Linked DNA regions of Homo sapiens. The protein of the gene in region 2 purifies or fractionates together with the protein of the main gene of each other region. This does not show direct contact. Each region holds a gene or a part of one and is shown on either strand. Other genes may lie near its edges.

The links. The genes of interacting proteins can lie anywhere in the genome.
Region 1: the proteins of GGPS1 (region 2) and FAM120A purify together in Homo sapiens (affinity purification with mass spectrometry; 3 studies listed by BioGRID and IntAct, with this or other methods). This does not show direct contact.
Region 3: the proteins of GGPS1 (region 2) and TUSC1 purify together in Homo sapiens (affinity purification with mass spectrometry; 3 studies listed by BioGRID and IntAct, with this or other methods). This does not show direct contact.
Region 4: the proteins of GGPS1 (region 2) and SLTM purify together in Homo sapiens (affinity purification with mass spectrometry; 2 studies listed by BioGRID and IntAct, with this or other methods). This does not show direct contact.

What each region holds. Positions count from the first base shown.
Region 1 is NC_000009.12:93,457,119-93,462,268, forward strand, and holds part of FAM120A (constitutive coactivator of PPAR-gamma-like protein 1), read left to right. Parts: intron 1-5,150. UniProt on the Homo sapiens protein: Component of the oxidative stress-induced survival signaling. May regulate the activation of SRC family protein kinases. May act as a scaffolding protein enabling SRC family protein kinases to phosphorylate and activate PI3-kinase.
Region 2 is NC_000001.11:235,331,053-235,336,202, forward strand, and holds part of GGPS1 (geranylgeranyl pyrophosphate synthase), read left to right. Parts: intron 1-4,189; 5' UTR 4,190-4,212; coding exon 4,213-4,282; intron 4,283-5,150. UniProt on the Homo sapiens protein: Catalyzes the trans-addition of the three molecules of IPP onto DMAPP to form geranylgeranyl pyrophosphate, an important precursor of carotenoids and geranylated proteins.
Region 3 is NC_000009.12:25,675,885-25,680,816, reverse strand, and holds TUSC1 (tumor suppressor candidate gene 1 protein), read left to right. Parts: upstream 1-2,372; 5' UTR 2,373-2,504; coding exon 2,505-3,134; 3' UTR 3,135-3,848; downstream 3,849-4,932.
Region 4 is NC_000015.10:58,891,596-58,896,745, reverse strand, and holds part of SLTM (SAFB-like transcription modulator), read left to right. Parts: intron 1-2,163; coding exon 2,164-2,313; intron 2,314-2,552; coding exon 2,553-2,656; intron 2,657-2,758; coding exon 2,759-2,925; intron 2,926-3,381; coding exon 3,382-3,467; intron 3,468-3,685; coding exon 3,686-3,849; intron 3,850-5,150. UniProt on the Homo sapiens protein: When overexpressed, acts as a general inhibitor of transcription that eventually leads to apoptosis.

The DNA of each region.
Region 1 (5,150 bases), on a different chromosome or scaffold from region 2:
TGTTTATCCATTCATCCACTGGTGGATACTTGGGTTGCTTCCACTTTTTGACTATTGGGAATAATGAATAATGCTTCTATGAGCATAGTATACAAAGAGCTGTTCGAGTTCCTGCTTTCAGTTCTTTTGGGTATATACTCAGAAGTAGGATTGCTGGGTCATATGGTAATTCTGTTTTTCTTTTTAAGGAATGGCCATATATTTTCCACAGTGGCTGTGTAGGCCATATATTTTATGTCATAAGTTATATAATATATATTATTATAATATAGTTCCATTTTTTCACATTAATGTGATTGCACTATACGTTATTCAGCAGTTTGCTTTTTTATTTGTAAGAAATCTTTCCATGTCTATACTTAGAGCTCTAAGTCTTTTCAGTCCCTAAATAGTATTCCATAATTTATCCAACCCCGACAGATGGTATACACATGATATATACACACAGTAGAGCTAAAGGTATGCACATTTTAAAAGCCACGTAGGACCATAGAGTCAACATTACCAGAACTTCAGACTTTGCAAGAAAGCCAGAAACCCAGATTTTTAAAAAAATTATTCCATTTTAAAAATGCCAAGCGAAGGAAAACTTGGTTCTAAGTTAGCTTCAGCTCTTGTGCCACCAATTTGTTATTTGAGCACTGATCTTTATCAACAATTATCATGGTCATCTAAATCTCTTCCTTTTTTTTTTTTTTACTTTAAAATTAAACCTATCAAAAACCACTCTGTCTTTTCCTGTCTGCCTCCTTGAACCTTTTTCAATGATCAAAATGCTTCCATTTCCTGGGGTTACTGCAATATGATGTTTCCTTAAATGCCACAATCCTCTTGGCCACTTCCATAGTATATTCTTCATTATATACTTCTCAATATTACATATTTTGAGGTGAGTGCTAACCCACATGTTTATTTGACATCTCACCATTTCCAAGGCACAGCCTCACTGTCCTCAAACACTTCAGCACCTGGTTTTACATTCTTATATATTATTTATACTGTGTCCCATCAACACAGACACTGACTCTTCACCTCTCTCATCTGGCATCCTGATTCTGCAACTGGAGTGAATTTCTAATTGCACTTTAGATACTCCAGAGCTTGGACCGTATAATTAGTGAGAAAAGTGACCCCACCTTTAACACTTCTGAACGCTGTGTCCCTGTCACTCCTTGCCGCTCCCACCGTCTGTCCCCTGCTTGCCTTCCGCCATTTCTCTTTTCCCATTCTGTTGGCTTCCTTTTTAGCTGTAACTAGCTTGAACTTCATGATCATTCACTTCAGAGTTACACCCTCTACCACCATAGAGTCATGCTTGGTATTCCAGCATCCCATCCTCCCAGTCCCTAGAATAATGACACACCAGGCCAATTCTGGCTCAGTAGTCTCCTACTTAACTGTTATACTCTTCCTTTTTTCCAGTACCCCCAACATTTGAATTCACCATATTTATCCAAAAGGTCGAAGAAATGCTTTGCAAACCCTTCAGTGGGTTGTGAAACCAAATTATTGGATGTTTGCCATTACTTAAAAATAACGGAGTAAAATAGAATGAAAAATAGAATGCAAGGCATATACTATAGGTAAATTCCATGTCATTACACTTTTGTATTACTGTGGGTAGCAGTAAGAATGGCCTCTGCACCTACCCCCGCGCCCCAGTGGAACTAATCTTGCACAGCTTTGGCAGGGTAGACGGCCACATCTTCAGGGAGGTCACTCTCCTGTTGGGACTTGAACAAAACCATTAAGTCCAAATTCCTTATTCAGACTTGTAGACCTTCCTGCGACCTGAACTCATTTGACCTTACTTAATGTTTCACAATCCCTCTACTGTACTTTTTAAAATGTTCCCAACCCAACTGGTCACTATTTCCCCAAGAAATATCCAGTTTCTGCTTATGTCATTCCCTCTTGTTTAACTACTGTACTGTGTCCTACTTTTGCTCATCAAAATTTTACTTACACTTCAAAGCCCATGTCAAATGCCAGCCTTCTTCATGGAATCTCTTGATATTTGAAAAAGTGGACTGGGAATACACACACAGCATGGTGTATGTTTGCAGTGGACATTCTAGTCTGTTGTATTGCACCTACCTGCATAACTGCATATTTACCTCCCCCAGCCACCCGTAGGCTCCTTGAGGCCAGGGACTGTTTTACTCCTCTTGTACCCCATTATGCTTAGCATAGGCACTCAACTCTAATCAGAATATTTGCTGCATTCCATTATATAGCCAGACAAATTAAATTATTTCAAAATCTGGATCAATGGCCATTACTTAAGTTTTGTTTTGTTTTTTTAATCTTAAATTTCTCATACTCTCTTTTCTGACTGGTTCCCAATGGTGATTGATTCTCCTTTCAGCAAATGTTTGAGCACCTGTTAATGCCCAGGCCTGGAGGAGTGAACAGAACAGGAAAGGAAGGAAACCTTCAGGGAGCCTATAGCCTCTGGGTTGAGGAGGTTCATTTAAATCCTTTTTTTCTTGTTTGGAACTTTCTTTAATACTGTAGAACAATATGTTTACTCAGTGAAGACCTGTGAGTGGCTCTCAAGTAGGGTTGACAGTTGAGACATTTGGCAGGGGACATTTGGCAGTGCCTGGAGGCATTTTTGGTTGTCACAGCTGGGGGAGGATGTTAACTGAAGGCATCTATTGGGTGGAGGCCAAGGATGCTGCCAAACATTCTACAGTGCACAGAACAGCCCCCATAGCAAAGAATAATGTGGCCTAAAATACCAGTAGTGCCAAGGTAAGGAAATCTTGGTATGAGCAAATCAAAGAATTATAAGCTTTATGCCTTTGTAAAGTCATATAAATGTTTGCGATAGAGATGTCCAAGTACACCAGGAAGAAAGTAATCAAAACTACAACTTAATTTTCTGAATCAAAATACACGCAGGTATACTTCCTCCTATGTCTAACATGTTTAGATCGACATTGTTCTTCATTTTAGTTTTCTGAAATTTATATGAATAGGAAGAAACTAATTAACACATATTACACATTCCAACCTTAATAAGCACTACACCATAGGAATAAATGTCAAATATCGCGTAACATGAAGAAGAGAGATTTTAGGATTTGAAAACTTAGACTACTTTCCAGTAGATTTATAGGCAGAATTTTCTAAATAAAACAGGCATTTAAATGAATCACAGTTCAGATAAAAATATTCTTAAATTATCTAAATGTCTCCATATAGTTCATCGTTTATTTCCTTTTCGCTTTTTTTTGAGATGAAGTCTCACTCTGTTGCCCAACCTGGAGTGCAGTGACACAATCTCAGCTGACTGCAACCTCCACCTCCCAGGTTCAAGTGATTGTCCTGCCTCAGCCTCCCAAGTAGCTGGGATTACAGGCACGCCATGCCCAGCTAATTTTTGTATTTTTAGTAGAGACAGGGTTTCACTATGTTGGCCAGGCTGGTCTCGGACTCCTGACCTCGTGATCCACCCGCCCTGGCCTCCCAAAGTGCTGGGATTACAGGCATTAGCCACTATGCCTGGCCCTATTTTTGCTTATTTTTATGTTTTCTCTAGAAGTAAATCTGATGAAGACCTTGCCTGTTATCCAGCTCTTAGAGCGATGCTTGGTGTGTAGTACATGCTCAGAAAATATTTGATAAATGGATATGAATCACCAGTTACAGGCAAGGAAGTGTGATGGCAGAAAGATGGTAGGAAGCAGAAGTTTTAAAGTCCCCCTAGAGTTAATTCCAAAATCACTGGTGTCAGCTTGGCCACCTGGTGCAGAGCTTTTATCTTTGAGTAAACCTTTTATGCTTCTTAACTTAGGAGATGTGTTGAGGGCATAAAATGGGTGACTGCTTCAGGAAATGGGCTGCATTTAGCCACCTTTCCTCTTGTTACACCTGGCTTTATCACACATTGTTTCTAGGCATCTTAGGGGACAGTGTAAAAGAGTTGAACTTGACCCACTGCAGTATTTGTAGAGGTGATGGTCAATCTGCATTATGGAGTTTAGGATCTGTGATTTAGAAACGGTACTTTTATGCGCCAGTCATTTGGCATTTCTCAGTTGTCTCTGGAATCAATTAACTTTCTTGAAAGGATGAATTTACCATGTTGGTGTTTTACTGGTTAGTGCAGGAAAGTATACTAGAGGGTTTATTGCTGGAGGGTTGACTTCACAGGTCTGAAGTACATCATTCATCCTCTGAGGTAGAGCACATTTATGAATAGTAGTAACAAGCCAGCCCAGACTGTTGGAGGGGGTCACTAGACTCCATGGATGAGGTGTTTTAATTTCCTGGACCTATGAAGAGTTTGCAAGTGTTACTATCTTGAAATAAATAGTATCAACCTGTGGTTCTTTTTCCTAAATTATGAAAATTGAAATTTTATGTTTTAGATTTTGGAATGGTATTTTAATAAGAATGATATTACTAGGATTTAGCTGAGTCATTAGATTACTAGAGTAGGCTAAATAGATTCTGAATACAAATAATGTGTGTGTTTCTTCCTTTTATCATTGTATTTTTTTATTTTTAAAGTTTGTAAAGTTTAATTTGCATTTCTTTTATGACATCACTCCTTTATTATTATTAATATTTTTAGAGGGAAAAATCAAGCAGTTTTATAATTCGAACATCCCAAATCTGAAATGCTCCAAAATTCAAAACTTTTTGAGCACCAGCATGATGCACAAAGGAAATGCTCACTGGAGCATTTTGGATTTTTGATTTTTGAATTTAGAATGTTCAACTGGTAAGCATAATAACAAATATTCCAAAACTTGAAAAAGCCTGAAATCCAAAACACTTCTTGTCTTAAGTGTTTCAGTAAAGGACACCTAACCTGTATTATTGAATAACCATTGAACCAGACTGTGATCACATCACAAGCAGTGTGTGCTAAAGAGATTGCGAAAGCCAAAAAGAAGTGTCACCCTTTGATACAGCCTGGCAGATACAAACTATTACATACATCCTAATTGTCGTTAATCAAAGGAAAAGGAAAACTCTGCCTTTTTACAAGTAGGAAGTTAATTTTGGAGCCAAAGCACCTAGGCCTTCTGAGAAGACAGGGAGATACCCTTCTTTTTATTATTATTGTTTCTTAAAATTGTGGTAAAATACACCTAACATAAAATTTACCAATTTAACCATTTTTAAATGTACAG
Region 2 (5,150 bases):
GGTAATAGGTTACCTAAATAGGTATTTGCATAATAGGTTACCTAACTAAATAGGTTTTTGCCTAATAGGTATGTTGATTATTTCGCTTACTTGATTCTTTATGAGCCTTTTTTTCCTTGCGACGTCTTTGGTATTAATTGTTAGTCAAGATGGATGTAGAAATTTTCCATATGGGATGTTTCTCTTTGAATTCATGTTGTTAAAATGATTTCTTTTGGTGGAGTGCTGATCTTTTTTATGATTGTTTCATATAGATAAGAACAGACTACAAAAAAATATGCCTTTCAATCCTGAAGAGTAACCTGAACTATACACTAGTTTTGTGCTTTAATTTTCATTTGTAATCTGCCTTCAATAAAGAGTTAAGCTAGTGGAATTTATGTCTTAGCTTGTTATAACACAAACACGAATATTTGTCTGCTTGGCATTAAAGGGTAAAGATATTCCATAGCTGGGAATCTTAATCTGAGGTACGTGTAAACATTCAGGGACTATATGATCTCTGAGAATTTGTATGTTGTAAGTCTTTGTGGCAGTGTATACATTTGTGTTGCAACTTATTAACACATACACCGGGCTTTTTTTTTTTTTTTTAGAAGATTCATAGCTTTCATCATATTCTCAAAAGGTTTCTGTGACCCATGAGATGGTTTACAGTATGGGGAAGCATCAAAGCACTTGCACAGTTGATGGTTATATGTGTGTGTTATTATTTCAGCCACCCATTATCATGTGCTTACCAACTGCCTAACAGTGCATACATATGTAGAAGTTTTATTCTTTTCTCCTGTTGCCATATTATACGTCTCATTTCACAGCAGAAAAACAACTGCATGACAGAGACAATGTGGTTCAAACCATTTTACCCTTGTATTCATTGACTGCTACAAAACAGGAACATTAAATACCTGATTGTCACCAAATTGGGTAGTCTCAGCACTTCTACACTCGTAATTGTGCTGGAAAAGTGGAATGCTAGCACTAATAATTAGATTTTGGTTTGGAGGGTTTTTTATTTGTTTATTCTTACTTGTATAAATTTATGGGGTGCAAGTGTAGTTTTATCACATGCATAGATTGCATTGTAGTGAAGTCAGGACTTTTAGGGGGTCCATCACCCATGTAATCACGTTGTACCCATTAAGTAATCTTTCATCATCCACCTCCTTCCCACCTTCTCACCCTTTGGAATCTCCATTGTCTATCATTCCACACTCCATGTCCATGTATACACATTATCTAGCTCCCATTTATAATTGAGAAGATGTACTATTTGTCTTTTATGTCTGACTTGTTACACTTAAGGTAAGGGCTATCCATCCATTTTGCTGCAAATGACATGATTTCATTTTGTTTTAATGGCTGAGTAATCATTCGTTGTATATATACCACATTTTCTTTATTCAGTCATCTGCTGATGGACACTTAGGTTGATTCCATATCTTTACTATTGTGAATAGTGCTGTAATAAACACATAGTGCAAGATTTTGGAAATTTTACTTTTGTGGCACGTTGTTGGTATTTACTCAGGATCTTTGGATTTGCTTGGCTGCATGTATATGAATCAGTGTGTTTATTTACTGAAATATGTGCAAAAGTCTTGTCTTTGGTGGATTAATTTATAATATAAATCCACAAAAGTCAGATTCTGCTCCTAAGTATATTTTACATTTTTAAATTTAATGCCAGCAAGAAGTTACAGTACTAGAATTGCCTTACCCCTGAGAGTATCAATGATCAGATCATAGTATCAGGTGACTGGGCTATAGAAGATGACTTTTATTACTTAACATTATGAAGTTACTAGGGCTGATTTAGAAATCGAGGAACACTGGTGAAACCCCGTCTCTACTAAAATACAAAAATTAGCTGGGCGTGGTGGTGGGCACCTGTAGTCCCAGCTACTCAGAAGGCTGAGTCAGGAGAATTGCTTGAGCCCAGGAGGCAGAGGTTGCAGTGAGCCGAGATCGTGCCACTGCACTCCAGCCTGGGCGACAGAGTGAGACTCCGTCTCAAAAAAAAAAAAAAAAAAAAAAAAGGAACACATCCTCACTGTTACAATAAATAACAGTAGCCCACACCCCCTTAGTTGTGATGTGGTGTGATACCATGTAAGCAACCTATTTCCAGTTCCCCTAACATTCTCAAGCAGCTGTATCAGAATCATACAAGATGCATATTTAAATTGAAGATTTCTAAGTCTCTGGCCCAGACTTAGAAAAAAAGGATCAGGCCGGGCACAGTAGCTAACACCTGCAATTCCAACACTTTGGGAGGCTGAGGCGGGTGGATCGCCTGAGGTCAGGAGTTTTGAGACCAGCCTGGCCAACATAGTGAAACCCCATCTCTACTAAAAATTCAAAAAATTAGCTGGGCGTGGTGGCAAGAACCTGTAATCCCTGCTATTCGGGAGGCTGAGGCAGGGGAATCACTTGAACCCGGGAGGTGGAGGTTGCAGTGAGCCAAGATTGCGCCACTGCACTCCAGCCTGGGCAACGAGCAAAACTCCGTCTCAAAAAAAAAAAACAAAAGGACCTTTGAGCAATCAGAATAACACAAAGTACATGAACTGAACTTCATTTTCTTCATTCAAAAGAAAGTGGCCCTCACTCAAGCAAATATATTCTTGTGCTTTATCTTCTGGCATACTGAGATAACTTTCTAAAGTGGTTTCCAATTCCAAAATCCAATGATGTGCAACTCATTGAACAGCCCTAACCACAAACTGCCATTAGATGCCATATTACATTTAGCCTTTTTGTTGTAGAAAAGTTGGTTAGAAGTGGGCTCAGGATTCTAAAGACTAAATCATAGTCCCAAGAAGCAAAAGAAAGAGGATAAAAGTAATAAACTTCCCAAAATGTGCCAAAGATGCTAGAGCAGTTAGATTCCTAATATGAGGACAAGTAATAATAGAAACAGATACAAAGAAATAAAGTAGAGATTCAACAGTACAGGGAGACCCTAGGAAGACCATGAGTGTTATTCTAGGAAATACTGAAATAAGACAGATTTCAGTATAAAGGGGAATATGTTTAATAAATATATGCATTTGAGTTAATGCGTATTTTAAATCAGAAATCTCTGAAATGGATTGATTGTAGAGAAACTACTAGGGGGACGAGGAGAATCCCTTTAAATTTTAAATACATAAAACATACTCATCTTAGTGCTCATTTAAAAAAGGATATGTTTACTAATTAGTGTAATCAGTTAAATACAGAGGTATCTTTCCAATTCTTTGGATGTGTTTTGACATTTGCCGTCAACAAATTAAGCCTTTTGTGGTTGATTAAAATAGGAAAAGCTTAATATAAGTTATGTGACTAAGAAAACAACTTAAAAACCAAGACAACACTTTGACCAATATAATCACTTGAATGAAGAATTTTCTAATTGAGATATAATTTACATACCACCCATTTAAAGTGTACATTTCAGCAGTTTTTAGTGTATTCACAGGGCTGTGCAACCATCACAATTTAATTTTATAACATTTTGATCCCTGCGAAAAGAAACCCTGTACTCATTAGCAATTAGTCCCTGTTCCTAACCACTAATCTACTTTCTTTCTCTGTAGATTGGCTTATTCTGAACATTTCGTATAAATGGAATCATACAATATGTAGTCTCTTGAGATTGGCTTCTTTCACTTAACATGTTTTCAAGGCTTCATAGCTGTAGAATCTTGCTTTGTTTTTTTGAGACTGGAGTCACTCTTTCGCCCAGGCTGGAGTGCAGTGGTGTGATCTCAGCTCACTGCAACCTCTGCCTCCCGGGTTCAAGCAGTTCTCCTGCCTCAGCCTCCCAAGTAGCCAGAACTACAGGCACACACCACCATGCTCGGCTAATCTTTGTAGTTTTAGTAGAGATGGTGTGAAGGCTGGTCTCGAACTCCTGACCTCATGATCTACCCACCTCAGCTAATTTTTCATATTTTTAGTAGAGACAAGGTTTTGCCATGTTGCCCAGGCTGGTCTCGAACTCCTGGGCTTAAGCTATCCGCCCGCCTCAGCCTCCCAAAGTGCTGGGATTACAGGCGTGAACTACCGTGCCCAGCAACAGAATCTTCTTTTTAAACCAGACTAGGTGTCTTTTCACAAACACCCTGCAATACAAATTCCTTTGCAGTTTGACACTGAAAGATGATTAGTTTCATGTGATCTTTATGTTTCTCCTTTTTGACAGATTAGCTTTGAAGTTTAAATCCAATGGAGAAGACTCAAGAAACAGTCCAAAGAATTCTTCTAGAACCCTATAAATACTTACTTCAGTTACCAGGTAATACTTCACTTACAGTCCATATAGGGTCATTTTCATGCAGTAGTGGTCGTTCAAATGTTAGCAAATAGAAAAGGTTAGACTTGCTAGCCGTTGAGATTTTCTATTTAAGGTGATGCGTATGAGAAAAATGATAAATAGAACATTATAATTTTTTCTTTATTAAAAGGTAATTTTTGCCAGGTGCAGTGATACATACCTGTTGTCCCACCTACTTGGGAGGCTGAGGCAGGAGGATGGCTTGAGCCCAGGAGTTTAAGGCTATAGTGCACAATGATCACACCTGTGAATAGCCACTACACTCCAGCTTGGGCAACATAGTGAGACCCCGTCTCTTAAAAAGAAACGTAATTTTTGAAGGCACCCTTTAAAACATATCCAATTATTTAACATATCTTGAAAAATAAAAATACTTAAAACATTTTGGTATCTCATTGGAGGTTGTACTCTTTACGGATATTACGCATTCAGATTCCCCACTGTTTAGATATTAGGGGAAGTTACGCAGATTTGTTTAACAGTAGAACACTTTATTTACCATACATGTTCAAGTTTACCTTCTATGTCTGTATTTTCCAGTATCTCACACATACACTGCATTTCATATACTACTGGTTCCTTTGAGAGCCAAATAATAATGTATCTAAAATCACAGTATTTGGAAATATAGCCCACTTTATTCCTGTATAAGGGTATGCCACCTTGGACATGGCTTCCTACCTCACGTGTACGTGTGTGTTTTTGTTTTATTTTGCTTCTTTAAAAACTTGTCTGGAGGCTGGGCGTGGTGGCTCACGCCTGTAATCCCAGCACTTTTTGAGGCCAAGGCGGGCGGATCATGAGGTCAAGAGGTTGAGACCAGCCTGGC
Region 3 (4,932 bases), on a different chromosome or scaffold from region 2:
TTTTTAGTTTTAAAACTGTTTAAACAGAATTCTTTTTATAGCAGAATTCTTTTTCTTGAGCAAGAGTAGCTTAAGGAACAATGATGAACCAGTTGTCAGAAAAGAGTGACCTATGTCCTTTAAGACTTTCTTCTATTTAGCAAGCAAGCAATTTTACTGTTCAGAAGCCCCCAGTCTTAAAAAGCAGCACAGGTATCTATCTACCTTTTATTTTTCTAATCAAGCACTTATATACTTATTCTATATGTTTTAAGTATTATTGTAGTCTTGCATTTCTTTTAAATTTGATCAGTTCCGTATATTTTCCAAATTTTTTCCATTTTATTTTCATATATAGGTACATATTATTTGCCCAGTAATATTTTTATATGTAGACCATTAACAAACTACAGTGTGGAGAAGCATTTTTACTCTTTGTGCTACCATCCTCAGAAAAGCTGTAATTTTCATCTTCGAGTATATGATTCTTGACATATTATTCTAGGTAAATTAAAATAAATACAAGTATATACTTTTAGTACTAATCATTTTAATCACTCTGTTGTCTCAACTCCACTTTCAACTTAGAAATGACATTGTCTCTATGTCGTATTTGAAAGATTGGTGGACTCTCCATTAACAAATCATAAGACAAATGTTCACTGCTACATAAGACAGTCTTTATGAGTCTTAATACCTTTTTGTTGGATCGATTTTTTCCACATTTTTTTCTTTCCTTTTCTTCCAAACTTCCCTTTCTCCCTCTCTTCATCCCTTCCCCCTTCCTTATTTTTTGAGATAGGTCTCCTTTTGTCGCCCAGGATGGAGTACAATGGTGTGATCATAGCTCACAGCAGTCTTGCAGCCTCAACCTTAATGTAAATTAAGAATGATACAGTCCTTCTTGAGTCTCTTGAACCCGGAAGGTGGTGGTGGCAGTGAGCAGAGATGGCGCCATTGCACTCCAGCCTAGGCAACAAGAGCGAAACTCCCATCTCAAGAATGATATGCTCCTTTTTTTTTTTTTTTTTTTTTTTGAAAAGGAGCCTTGCTCTGTCGCCCAGGCTGGAGTGCAATGACGCAATCTCAGCTCACTGCAAACTCTGCCTCCCGGGTTCAAGTGATTCTCCTGCCTCAGCCTCCCGAGTAGCTGAGACTACAGGCCCGTGCCACCACGCCCGGCTAATTTTTGTATTTTTAGTAGAGACGGGGTTTCATTGTGTTAGCCAGGATGGTCTTGATCTCCTGACCTTGTGATCCTCCCGCCTCGGCCTCCCAAAGTGCTAGGATTACAGGCGTGAGCCACCACGCCCGGCCTGGAATGTGGTCCTTCTTAAAACTAAATTTATATTTTTTGAAATTCCAAAATTATATCTTTCATGTGATAAAATGAGATAATTGAGAACACATTTGGTGTTGTGGTCTCTTAAGATCTTGCCTAACAAAATAAAAGTACAAAAAAATTGAGCAAATATTTTCCCCTTATTTGTACTTGTCAATGAAGACCCCATGTATGTACTTATATGTTTTTCTTGTTCGTTACTTGCTCCAGTGGTTTGGAAATTTTGGTTATCCTGAGAATTCTCTGGGACCCTGTTAGACATGTAGATTCTTGCTAGGGCATACTTGCTTAAGAGATTCTGGCGTCAGTACCTAATCCTTAAATTACTTTGCAATCATCCAGTTACTATGTAGGTTGAGACCCTACAAGAAGGAATGATTCATTCAATGAGATGTACATCCTTGATCCCAGAAACTTTGGAACTAAGTATTCAGTTTCTTCAATAAACAGAGCACTTCTTGTTTCATAGCTTTTGGGGGTTGGCCTGAACAAATCAACTAAGTATGACCTAGTTTCTATAGCGTTCTGAACAATTTACAGAGTGAATTCCTGGCTGTTCACAAATTGGGAATTGACTGCATTCTTTGGAGAGCCAGGTGTTTCCACCGGGAAACCCCATGACAGGTACTCAGCCCAATTCTGTTTAATGTTTTATTAAACATAGGGGTGGGTTAAACCACTGGGTTTTAAATGAAGCACTTAGAGCTTTTCAACTTGCCCCATAGCTTTGTCTCAGAACCGATCATTCTATTATCATTAGTTTTGAGAATGCCGTGTAAAGAGCAAAGTAACCACTGGTGGTTGCACTCCGGAGCGGGCGAGGACGGCTAGTTCCTGCAGTGCCCAGGCCTGCACGGAAGCGCCCTGGCACAACTCAGCTGAGGATACACGCTTTTTCCCGCGCAGCCGGAGGGCTGAACAGCAAAGCACTCCCCGGGGGAACTGTGTGTCAGCGCAGCCTGGAGAGAGCAGGCCCAGGGGGCAGCTCCACCACAGGAGACAGGACACGCCTCAGTCTGGGCAAATTCCCGGCCTCCTTTGGCTCTAAGCCAGCAGCCGCCGCCCGCGACCTCCTCTCCTCCTCCGTCGTCACCCCGGCCGCCCTGCCAGCCCCGAACTTGCCCGCGCCTGGCCGCGCGGCCCCTCAGCCCACGGGGCTGGCGGCGCGGTTGGGATGGGACCGATGTGGCGCATGCGTGGTGGCGCCACTAGGCGCGGGAGTTGCTGCGGCGGGGACGGTGCTGCGGACGGCCGAGGGCCAGGCCGCTCCGGCCGGGCTCGTGGTGGGGGCAGCCCCAGCGGCGGCGGCGGCGGCGTGGGCTGGCGAGGCCGCGCGGACGGCGCCCGACAGCAGCTGGAGGAGCGGTTTGCCGACCTGGCGGCGAGCCACTTGGAGGCCATCCGTGCGCGGGACGAGTGGGACCGGCAGAACGCGCGGCTGCGTCAGGAGAACGCCCGGCTGCGGCTCGAGAACCGGCGGCTGAAGCGCGAGAACCGCAGCCTCTTCCGTCAGGCTTTGCGGCTCCCCGGCGAAGGCGGCAACGGGACGCCCGCGGAGGCACGCCGGGTCCCTGAAGAGGCCAGCACGAACCGGAGGGCTAGAGACAGCGGCCGAGAGGACGAGCCGGGCAGCCCCAGGGCCCTGAGGGCCCGACTTGAGAAGCTGGAAGCCATGTACCGCCGGGCCCTGCTGCAGCTGCACCTCGAGCAGCGGGGACCACGTCCGAGCGGGGACAAGGAGGAGCAGCCTCTACAGGAACCCGACTCCGGCCTCCGCTCCCGGGACTCGGAGCCCTCTGGGCCCTGGCTGTAGCCGAGGCCGCAGCCGGTGAGAGGCGGAGCCTCGAGCGGGCCCCTCCTCCTCCGTTCCCAGCTACCCCCGACCTCGCGCACGCCCTGGCCCGCTCCCTGCCCGCGGATACCTTGGACTACGGTGCCTTCCCGCCCCCACCAGTGGACACTTCCGGGTGGCGCTTGGCCATCCGCTTGGTGGAGGTCGAGTGGGTGCAAGGGCCCTCAGGACCTCCCACATGTACAGTTCCCCTGCCTCTTGCCCCGGCTAGTTTCCCTGGAGAGAGGCCTAGCCAACAACGAAGGGACGGATTTTAAAACAGCGAGAACTGGGTGCCAAGAAACACTTCATATTCCCTGAACTTTTCTGGATGTTGTGCGAACCTGTTGTATTTTTTTTTTTCCTGTATTTTGGTTCTGAGGGATGAGTAATGTGTTTTTAGTTGGTTGAGTTTATCCATTCTTCAATCCCCTAAAGCCTTCAGCTATTCTTTCATATGTGGCCAACATTTTAAGTACAGTGTTTGCTTTTATAAGTCGGTGTTACTTGGATGTCCTATAAAATACCCACTTTTTATAAAGATGATATTTATAACCTAGGAACTCATGCCTGTCTTGGCTGCAGTCCCTGTACATCTAATATATACTGATTTGTTTGCCCCCAGAGAATTTTTAAGGTATCTGCCTATATCGTGATCTTTTGAAATGGTAAATAAATCTGGTGCATTAAAAATTATCTGAAAGGTTGCGGCGAGTATTATTTGAAGTGTGTTACATTTTTATATTTTTAAAAAGATACCTTTATGAATATACTAATTTAAATCTGGTTTTAGTTGTCCTTAGTAAACTATCATGTTCTTTTAGCTTCATGTAACAGTGATCTTTTAAAATAATCTAAAGATTAGGTAGTCTAAAAGTTATTTTAATCTTTAATGTTCAATTAGCTTAATTAGTACGTAGATAATTTGCCTTATTTTGACTAAGGACTTTTAAGAAATTATAAATTACTTGTATATCAAAAGTTCCCCTAACAAAGTAATTTAAGTCTCAGTTGTTATTTCAATGGCACAAAAAAGTGACTAGTTTAGCAATAAATGTCCTAAAATTACTTTTATTGCGCTTCGTTAATAACACTTTTGCCAACTAAGTAATGAAGAGGATACCATTGTGCCTGATAAAAAAATCATAGGTCCAAGAGTGTTTCAATGATGGAAAACATTTCAGGGGAAAAAATCATGAATAGAATTGTCAAGGGAATAAAATATACTAGTTATGGCATAGTCCAAAAGTATTAAATATTATATATTACAAAACAATGTTTCAGTCGTGTCCGTGTGAAGAGACCACCAAACAGGCTTTTTGTGAGCAACAAGGCTGTTTATTTCACCTGGGTGCAGGCGGGCTGAGTCCGAAAAGAGTCAGTGAAGGGAGATAGGGGTGGGGCCGTTTTATAAGTTTTGGGTAGGTAAAGGAAAATTACAGTCAAAGGGGGGTTGTTCTCTGGCAGGCAGGAGTGGGGGGGTCACGAGGTGCTCAGCAGGGGAGCTTTTGAGCCAGGATGAGCCAGGAGAAGGAATTTCACAAGATAATGTCATCAGTTAAGGCAGGAACAGGCCATTTTTCACTTGTTGTGTGGTGGAATGTCGTCAGTTAAGGAAAGAACCAGCCATCTGGATGTGTACATGTGGGTCACAGGGGACATGATGGCTTAGCTTGGGCTCAGAGGCCTGACACAATGTACCAGGAAAACAAGTTTTGTGATTTTTCAAGTTCTGGGTTATGAAGACACTATATTTTGCTTAAAGGTAATTGATATTCAG
Region 4 (5,150 bases), on a different chromosome or scaffold from region 2:
TACATAATTCACGGGGGCCTGGGGAGAACCAGATATGATCCTTGTTACAGATTTCTAGTCCAGTAATGGAGAAAAATATAAAACTGGCTATATATATAGGCATGAGAATGGTTTAAACTTATATAAAGTTATATATAAACATATATCTACATTAAGTTTATATATAAACTTTTTTTTTTCTTTTTGAGACACAGTCTCACTGTGTCACCCAGGCTGGGGTGTAGCAGCGTGATGTGGGCTCACTGCGACCTCTGCCTCCCAAGTTTAAACGATTCTCATGCCTCAAGCCTACCTAGTAACTGGGATTACAGGCATGAGCAACTGCACTGGGCTAATTTTTGTATTTTTAGTAGAGATGAGTTTTTCACTATGTTGGCCAGGCTGATCTCAAACTCCTGGCTTCAGGTGATCCACCAGTCTCAGCCTCCCAAAGTGCTGGGGTTACAGGTGTGAGCCATCGCACCACGCCTAAATATATAAACCTAATCAGAAGTTGTTATAAGTCTTGTGAAGGAAAAGTACACAGGTGTTAAAAAGGGGAGGCTTTCCTGTGGTTAGTTCATCAGGAAAAGTTTCTCTGGCAGTTAAGGGGAGACCTAAAGGAAGAGAAGGAGTAGTCAAAGAATACTCAATTAATAACAAATGCTTTGAATTGTGAGCCGCATCCCTGACGGCTCTCAATACTGTCTACTTACATTATAGTTTTTCATATACATCAAATAGTTAATGTACTCCAGTGTAAGCTTTTTGAGGTCAGGGACCTTATTTAGTGTACTTCATGTGCACATGATAGGCTTTCAGATATTGAAATTACTGAATTAGTGACCATTATTGGTAAATAGCCATTAATATTACCAAAACCTGTCCTCTTGATTTTTGGAGGGTTTTTTTCCTGCTTCAATTAGTGAGTTGCCTGAGTGTAAAGGAGGTTCTTGTAGGTGTCAGAAATAGAACACTGAGAATTGTAGTCCCATGATAGGCTGTGTTATATTTTTTCTTCTGTTTTCAATAATGTATTGTTAGAGATGTGAAAACAATATTTTAATGTTGGTATTTATTAGTAGTAAAACTATATGAGGATACCATTTATTTGGTAAGAAGACCCGTGGAGTTAAAAAATAAATGGCTATGGAGCAAATCAGCCTTTCCTAGGGTTGAGGTAAAAGTTGATTTGTTCCAGCCACCCATACCATAAAACTCCTGATTTTCCTGTTTACTTCTTCCCAGCTTTATGTCTTTACTCTTCTTTGTTCAGCACCGAATCGTTCTCTCTCTTTTCTTCTCACTCATCCATCCCTGCTTTGTCTCTCTTAACTAACCATCTTACACAATTGCAATTATTTGTCATGTTCATATACGTTTTAAAAGCACATAGATTGAAAGTGTTGTCTTTCAAGCTTTAGGGTGTTTTTCGGGGGATGCATTTTTAAGTCCGCTTTTTTATATGTGATTGGTTCTTTACTCATTATAGAAAAGTGTTAACACTCATCAATAAAATACTAGAAACTTTCTCTAAAGACATTCAGGGTGGGCCTATGATAGGGATATTTTGGTTCAAATCCAATTTATTTGCTTTTATTAATTGTGCCATTACTTCATTGATGAGATTGTGTTTTGGCTACATATTTGAGGGGAGGAAATAAATATAAAAAGGTTAAATTGCTTTTTGGCACTTTAAATTGTTCCCCTGAATATTTACTAAGATGGGTAACGTAGATGGTGATCACAAGAATATGAAATAGGCTGGCTGCAGTGGCTCATGCTTGTAATCCCAGCACTGTGGGAGGCCGAGGTAGGCCGATCACCTGAGGTCAGGCCTTTGAGACCAGCCTGGCCAACATGGCAAAACCCTATCTGTACTAAAAATACAAAACTTAGCAGGGCATGGTGGTGCATGCCTGTAATCCCAGCTACTTGAGAGGCTGAAGGAGGGGAATTGCTTGAACCCAGAAGGCAGAGGTTGCAGTGAGCTGAGATCACACCACTGCACTCCAGCCTGCGTGACAGAGTGTGACTCCATCTCAAAAAAAAAAAAAAAAACATGAGACAGAATAAGATACACCCTGAATTAATATATAGTTTCAGTTGTGAAGTTTCATGTATTTAGAAGTCTGTGTACTTGGAACGTTGTAAAACTCTCTAAAGTACAGTCTGATTTTATAGGTTCTGAGTGCAAAAGTAGTTACAAATGCTCGAAGTCCTGGGGCAAAATGCTATGGCATTGTAACTATGTCTTCAAGCACAGAGGTGTCCAGGTGTATTGCACATCTTCATCGCACTGAGCTGCATGGACAGCTGATTTCTGTTGAAAAAGTAAGCTTCCCTAACTGTTTATCAAAGCAAGTCTAATTTGATGGCTAGTTCTCAACTCATAGCTGTTAACAGTAGCAGGGAGTAGAATTTGCAGTGATTTTTAATTTTTATGTATTTGTAGTTTTTACTCTCCTTATATTTTTCCTATCGTTTCCAAATTTTCTGCCATTAGCACACTTCTTATAATCACAAAAATGTAACCATATGTACAAATTGTTTTTCTGGTTCGAACCTTTCAGGTAAAAGGTGATCCCTCTAAGAAAGAAATGAAGAAAGAAAATGATGAAAAGAGTAGTTCAAGAAGTTCTGGAGATAAAAAAAATACGAGTGATAGAAGTAGCAAGTAAGGATTTATTTTTATTTATTTATTTTGATAAGCAGATAGACTTTTTTGGTACATTATGAAGTACTCATTCTGTTTTTTTGTCTGGGGCGGTATGGTCAGGACACAAGCCTCTGTCAAAAAAGAAGAGAAAAGATCGTCTGAGAAATCTGAAAAAAAAGAAAGCAAGGATACTAAGAAAATAGAAGGTAAAGATGAGAAGAATGATAATGGAGCAAGTGGCCAAACATCAGAATCGATTAAAAAAAGTGAAGAAAAGAAGCGAATAAGTATGCTATACATCTTTTCAATCCCTTTCTAATGCATTCTACTACTTAATTTTTACAGTGGAAGGGAAAACCTGAAATTCTAATCCAGATATAAGCTTTGTTGTTAGGTGTCATTGTGGTAGGAAAGGAGGTCTAGTAGGAGTAATTGTCTTCTTTTCTACTCTGGGGAAACAAACAAATGTATTCTTCCAGCTAAGCTCCTTTGCTATTCTGGGCTGACTTAAAATGGTCATTGATTAGTACTATTGAATTAGGATCTTTTGGTATCACTGAAAGTATTTATGTTAGCAGACTGAACTGTTTAAAAAACTCTTTGCATTGAAGTTCTTGTAGAATAAGTAGTTTTTTTATTTCATGTATTGGTGTGTGACTATCAGAATTTAGCATTTTTACATACATATTTTCTTTCTCAATGAAAAATTTTAGACATTGTTTTATATAATTTTTTTCCCTTAGGTTCCAAGAGTCCAGGACATATGGTAATACTAGACCAAACTAAAGGAGATCATTGTAGACCATCAAGAAGAGGAAGATATGAGAAAGTAAGTCTCTGATCAGGATGGTTGTATACTACTTCAGCTGTTTACAAAAGAAGATAATTCTGTTTTTCCATAACCATCTTTGCGTACTTGCATGCTAGCAAACCCAAGAAAAAGGAAATGTTACTAGTCATTTGAACTTTTTAAATGACCTACTAAACTTGAAAAATAAAGCCCCAAAATATTTTAATTTCTAGTGTTCTTCTAATTTTTTTCTACAGATTCATGGAAGAAGTAAGGAAAAGGAGAGAGCTAGTCTAGATAAAAAAAGAGATAAAGACTACAGAAGGAAAGAGATCTTGCCTTTTGAAAAGATGAAGGAACAAAGGTTGAGAGAACATTTAGTTCGTTTTGAAAGGCTGCGACGAGCAATGGAACTTCGAAGGTAGGAAGAGAGTCTGTTTTATACCTGTCTTTAAATATAGGTAAATATTTAACACTAGTTGTAAGCCATATTTCTGGAAATTGTATTCCCACAGAAAACTGTTTGCCACCTTAAAGAAGTTACGGTAGCATCTAATGATTTCTTAAGTTTGCATAGCACTTTACAATTTACAAAGTGCTTTTCCATCTGTTGTCTCCAACTCAACAGTTCTGTAAGGCTAGTTATGCCCATTATACAATTGAAAAAAATGGAGGCCCAGAGAGGCTAAATGACTCTTCCAATGGCCACATGGCTAACAAGTGGCAGAGTCGGGACTCAGACCCAAGTCTTCTGACTCCAAGTCCAATGCTCTTTCCTCAACACCAAAGCTGCTGCCATAAAAAACATGACTTCAAAGGAAAAATTTGAGATAAGATAGTTTCAAAGTAGCTACAGTGTTCAAATACTGTAATCTGAAATTTTAACAAATTTAGCAAAAATTTATTGTTTGCATTAGTGCCTAAGAGAAGGAAGATTTGCCCTGTGAGCCTAATGGTATTCGGATTATATCCCAAAGCAAGCATTCTCTTTAAAACAAACGGAAAATATAAACAAAGCAAGATGTTTCCATTTTTAGTGGCCATATCTCAACAGTTCACGAGTGTCAGTTTACTTTTGTATATCAATTTTTGGATGCCACTTAAAATAGTCTTGTGGGTGTGTTTTATAGTATATTATTTCAAATGTTAAGCTGTCTTGTCCAGGGGTTACTTATCATGGGATTTCATCCATTCATTGACGACAGCGTTAGGAACTACCAGAGATACTTTTAGCAACTTAGATTATTCTGTACAATAATTGACACACAACTTTACTAAAAGGAAGTAATCCTTGTAGCACATAGAACCCATTTTCTCTTTTTTAAGATGAAGTCCAAATGTGCCTAGCTTCCTGTGTATTTAGTTGACAACAGATTGAGAGGAGAGTGGGATTGAGGAGCAACTAGACCAGTGATTCTCAAACCCTATGTGACCAAATTCCCTTTTATATTAAAAAAAGTTGCAATGCCTTTACTCTCCTGAAATGAAATTGATGTATAACATACTTAAGCTATACTAACAATTTCAAAAAAAGAAAAAAATGTAATGGCTTAACTATAATATAAAGGAGAAATAAAAGTAATTTATAATAAAAATATGTATTCCAGATATGAAGGTTTAGGCATGACTTAATGAAGTAGTCAGATGTTTGCATCCCTATTTAGACTCACTGAGAATGGGACAGCTTCAAATACAGACTGACGTTGTATGTCATTTAATATG